Linked DNA regions of Homo sapiens: region 2 is linked to region 1. A link means that fine-mapping ties the variant in region 1 to the expression of a gene that starts in the linked region. Tissue or cell type: whole blood. Region 1 holds a variant in brackets; the other region holds the start of a gene. All regions are shown on one strand. Distances are from middle to middle.

What was found. PIP is the estimated chance that this variant, and not a neighbour inherited with it, causes the effect.
Region 2: it holds the start of GPR137B, and the variant in region 1 is fine-mapped to the expression of GPR137B in whole blood (TOPMed, PIP 0.95).

The regions. Positions count from the first base shown.
Region 1 is chr1:236,281,989-236,284,672 of GRCh38, reverse strand. No RefSeq gene overlaps it. Among named protein-coding and RNA genes, the nearest start is that of ERO1B, 1.4 kb to the right of the region's middle. RefSeq lists an enhancer at 387-536 and a silencer at 2,371-2,684. The variant C/A (reference allele first, on the strand shown) is at 1,552.
Region 2 is chr1:236,141,314-236,143,997 of GRCh38, reverse strand. GPR137B (G protein-coupled receptor 137B) reads right to left here and starts at 1,459. Exons shown (of 7, transcript NM_003272.4): 1 at 962-1,459. The coding sequence starts at 1,375. RefSeq lists an enhancer at 732-1,235 and silencers at 1,201-1,470, 1,541-1,720.

The DNA of each region.
Region 1 (2,684 bases):
CCACAGCCTTAGGAATGGGAAGGTTCTAACTGAACATCATCTGCAGGAAGCATGGGTGATAGCACATCCCCAGGGCCTCTCACAATGCTGGTTTCAGTGTAGCTGATTTTAGGGAAAGCAGAGGTAAATCAGTCAGAATGAGAGAACAAAGAGGAGGGCTGCCTGTTCACAAAGAAACAACCCCGTCATACCACTCTTAACAATGAACACTAAAACAGATCATGACAGACACCACTTTAAGTGAGTCTTGGTATGCCCCTATTTCATGACAAACACCTGCTATTTCCAATTTCACTCACCAAGAAAAATCTCATTTGTCCCTAGAAGTTATGTGTAAGGCTTCTGAGCTGAAAACAAAAGCAAACGGGGAGGTTTGTTACTGTGACTTTCTGGATTAGGTAACTAAGAGGACAAAAGCTATCTGACCCCTGTCTGCATTAAAGTTCCCTGTCCACTTTGTCTCTCTCTCTTTTTTTTACTCCACCCCCGAACCCACTTTCTTCCTTTGTTCTTTAATAACAAATATTTCAAGCCTCTGGAAAGCCATGAATTCTGCCTTTGATATCCAGGCACTAGAGAGAGTCCTTAAAGAACCCGAGATTTTATAATAGGAAAATTTATAACCCACAATTTAAAAAAAGAAGTTTTGCATAACAAAATTCCAGGAAGTATGTGTTATTGACAACCTCAAATACAGCACAGACAAGGAATCTTTTAAAAAGTCTACCAAACTTGATAAAAAGTTTCTCTTATCAAAAGCACATTTATATGAAGGGAAGAAGGCAGTGAGCAGATAGGAAGTATAGGTTTGGAAGAGAAAAGGAGACATGGAAAAGTAGCTGGAAAAATCAAGCAACAATTTTTTTTTTTTTTTTTTTGAGACAGAGTTTCGCTCTTGTTGCCCAGGCTGGAGTGCAATGGCGTGATCTCAGCTCACCGCAACCTCCGCCTCCTGAGTTCAAGCGATTCTCCTGTCTCAGCCTCCCAAGTAGCTGAGATTACAGGCATGTGCTACCTTGCCCGGCTAATTTTGTATTTTTAGTAGAGACAGGGTTTCTCCACGTTGGTCAGGCTGGTCTCAAATTCCTGACCTCAGGTGATCTGCTCGCCTCAGCCTCCCAAAGTGCTGGGATTACAGGTGTGAGCCACCACACCCAGCCAATTTCTTTTTGCTTTTAAGCTAGGGAAGATCTGGACAGTTTGGAGGCAGAAGGGAAAGAGTTGCTGGAGGGGAAAAGGACAGGCAGGACTGGCTTCATGGGCATGTGACCTATGCAGTCAGCCACCCCAGGACCCTGCATTTGGTTTAATGCTCTGCTGGTTCTGAAAGGTATAAACCACTATGTGGTAGGCTGATTAATGACCCTCTATTTATAAATCCTCATCCTAATCTCTGGAACCTGTGAATATGTTATCCTATATGGCAAAAGGGACTGTGCAGATGTGATCAAGTTGAGGATTTTGAGATAGGATGGTCTGTAACCAATGTAATCACAAGGGTCCTTATACAAGAGAGACAGAAGAGTTAGGGTCACAAGAGAAGGCATGTGA[C/A]GAGGGAAGCAGAGAGAGTGAAGGAGATGTGAAGTCATGAGGTAAGGAATGCAGGTGGCCTCTGGAAGCTGGAAAAGGTAAGGAAACACATTGTCCCTGAGAGCCTCCAAAAGGAACACAGCCCTACAGGTCCATTTTGGACACCTGATCTCCAGTACTATAAGGTAATGAATTTCTTTTGTTGTATGCAACTAAATGTGTGATAGTTTCTTACAGCATCAATGAGAAACTAATACACGCTACATAAACACAAGGGAGATGTATTACTCGTTTTGTAGAAATCAAAGGCATTAATAAAACTAATAGCAGTTACCATTTATTGAGTGCTTCCTAGGTGCTAGGCACTATACTCAGCTCTTTCTGTATCTAATCTTATGTAGCCCTAGAACAAGATATGAGGTGGGAATTAAGGCCCAATAACTAGCTAGAATGTTTTAGAGTTGGGATCTGCGCCCAATCTATGTCACTCTAAGTTTTTTTTTGTTTTACCCCATCCCCATATTTCATCATAAGCCTTTGGGTTTGTCTTCATTCTTTAGCATGCGTTATACTCGCACGTGTCAACCTAGGAGTCGGGCTGGGGCGGGGCAGGAGATGACATCCACATCTAGGGTGCATGAAATTAAAAAAGAGCCGAAGCCATCTCTACAAGTCACAGGTAGCTTACATAGGCACCCACAGCAGATGTGAGGCTACAGAAAAATGAATGAGACAAAGAATACGCTTCAGACCGAAAGTCAAAGATCCCGCACCGTCCGTTCCTAACTCGCCCGCGTACTGGGTGAATCCTAGAGCCTGGCGTCTGCGAGGACTCCAGGAGCGACAGCAGGGACCGACGCAGAGAGGTCCTCAGCCTGGTTTCCCGGAGAAGAGGTCGCCCCGCTTCCCCCGCCCGCACCCCCCGGTGTTTTGGAGGCCCGCGTGGTCCCGCCTCATTGGCCGCCGCGGAGCCCGAGGCCTCGGGGAGGCGGGGCGGCCTTCGCAGTTGTAGTTCCCGAGTCCTCTCGTTCAGCGGCTCCGCCTTCCTGCCGCGGCGCCTAGGCGACCGCCCAGGACCACAACTCCCACAAGGCCCCGCGCTTGGGGGCGTGGCCGAGGAGCCAAGCGAGCCGGGGGCGGGGCCGCCTGGGGGA
Region 2 (2,684 bases), 140 kb after region 1:
CGCCTTCCCCTTCGGCAGAGTCCTAGTGAAAATGGACATCTTAGTGCTTGGAAAGCTAATGGGAATCAGAGATGATGATGACGATGATGACGGCGGCACCGCGTTATTAAACCTTTGTGCAACGCTATACAAAGTATTTGCAAAGTGCTCAACAATTACTGCACTTTCATTAAGTCAACCATCAGCAGTAAAGCAGCAGCCAAGTTAATTCACATACTCTCCCATTAGCTTATTTAATAATATGCCCCATAAAGTGATTTTTGTGTGGCTGTAAAAGAGCCCCAGTCAGCTTTTATGGCCTTTTCTTGGGGCCTCTCAGATGAGCTCAGACAGTAACTCTGATGAGCGGCAGCAGCTCGGAGCTGGGTGTTACCCCAGCCTGCTGTTTAGCAATCCGGTGGAATGAGTTAGTAAGCCGCAGTTCTGTAGAGCTCCTAAGCCGGAGGTTCAAAACATCTCATCAAAACCAACATGGTCTCACCCTGCCAACGCTCAAAACAGCAGTGTCAGGCCCAAATCTGGAGGCCAACGTGCAGAAGACCTTTCCAGGCCGGGAGTTAGGTGCCTGGGGAGGCAGGGCAAATTCTAGAGTTCAGGCCTCCCTTGGGGGCACACCTTCCATCCGTACTAACTGGCGTGTGCAGGCGCTGCTGCTTCGCGCTGCGCACGGAGAAGCGCCCCGAATCCACCGCACGATGCGGAGCCAGGGGCAGCGAGTGAGCGGCGGCCTCCAGCCCTCCCCTGCCTTCTCCTTGCCCCTTTTGGGAATGGCAGGGGGTTTCCTATGACAAATGCCCGCAAACAGGACAGGGTTCGGACGACCCCAGAGCCGGCGCCTTCTCCCTACACTCTCAGCCCTAGGGCCGGACCCGCCCCCGCGGCTGCCATCGCCCCTGCCTCGGGCGCCCCGCGGGGACCACCCCGCCAGGTGAGCGCCTCCAGGAGCCTCTCTGAAACTCACCTGCGTGAAGTACAAGTTCATCAGCGTGAGGGTGAAAAACTGCAGGCACACAGGGAAGCAGTAGAGCAGCCAGAAGACGAAGGGGCTGAGCGAATTGGCCGCCACGAAGTCTTTGAAGTAGAAGGAGAAGAGGACGGTCCGCAGGGAGGCCCAGAAGAGGCAGAGAAAGAGGAAGACGCTCTGGTAGCTGAGCCGCTTGTGGCGGTAACGCAGCACCAGCCAGAGCTGCACGTAGATGAACACGAAGAGCAGCGCGTAGAACACGGTGTAGACGACGGTGAGGCCAAGCTTCACGTAGGGGGGCACGGCCGGGGTCAGCGTGGGCGGCAGCGAGTCGTTGCGGGCTGGGTCCCACGGCGGGGTCTCCATCGGGCCGGGGGCGCTGCCGCGCGGCCGGGGACGCTCGGGCCTCATCGGGGCTCACGGCCGCCGCCGCCCCCGCGGGGGTCTCCGCGCATCGCGCTCAGCCTGCAGCCCCGAGACTGGAGGAAAGAAAACAAGCCGCACTTCCTCCCCCGGCACCACATGATTCACTGGGACGGCCTTTGTCTGCGATTGGCAGCGCCGCGCCCGCCGCCCCCGCGCGCCGACCGGCCCCGCGCGCCCCCGCCCCGGCCCGCGCGCCCCCGCCCCGGCCCGCGCGCCCCGGCCCGCCCTCCCCCGGGCACCGCGCGCCTTCGCCCCGCGAACCCCGGCCCGCCCTATCCTCGCCACCGCGCGCTCCCGCAGTGCGCGCCCCCAGAGCCGCACGCCTCCTCCCGGCCCCCTCCCCATCCCCGGGGCCGCGCGCTCCCAGACTGCGGGCCCCCAGAGCCCCGCGTCTCTTCCCCCCTTCCCGCCCCCTCCCCATCCCAGGGGCCGCGCGCTACCCGTCCCCGGCCCCTTCCCCATCCCCGGGGCCGCGCGCTCCCGCACTGCGCGCCCCCAGAACCGCGCGCCTCCTCCCCGGTCCCGGCACCGCGCCGCGCGCCCCCAAAACTTCCCAGCCGCGCCCCGCGCCTCGGGGGATCGCACTCGTGGCCTCGCGCATTCTGCTGCTGATTGCTTGTTTTGCAGAAGTTAATTCCTTTATTTAAAAACAAATTTAAAAAAAAAACTTTACAAGTCCTTTCCGTCCCCCCCTTTAAAAATAAAACTTTACGACTCTGTGGCTATGAACTGGCCGGCGTCTGGAATGATGTTTATTTCTAAATGCAGACATGCCAAAGACAGGGTTCGTATTTTTGAGGTCAAATTTGTATACTGAGTGAGGAAATAGACGGTGCCTGCGGCTGCTGCCTCCTCTGGGATGCAAGCTGGGCTGTTTTCTCCCGGAGAGCCTCACGCGCTCCCAGCGCCTCACCTCCCAGCGATGTAGCCGGTGCCGGGAGGCGCGCGGGCCGCGGGTCAGTGGATGGAGCCCACTGGGCTTCAGAGAGAAGTGGGGCAGCTGACGGCACACGGCCCCCCTTGTCCGATCCAACCCATGCCGAAGGAGGGTCTGTCCCCGCCACCCGAGAGCCCTTCTCTTTTGCTTTTGCTGAGCAGCTCGCTCCTCGAGGCTGTACAGCGACTTAGTCTTTGCCCCGGGGCACCACGCCACCCTTGTCTTGGGAGAGCTGGGGAGTGCTCTGGGAAAAGAGGGAAAGCCGGGCGCCCTCTGGAAACATTGCTGGGCAAGCGGTTCTGGTAAACAGAAGAAACTCGGATTTCCGAGGCTCCAGTAATTGTGATTTCTTTTCTT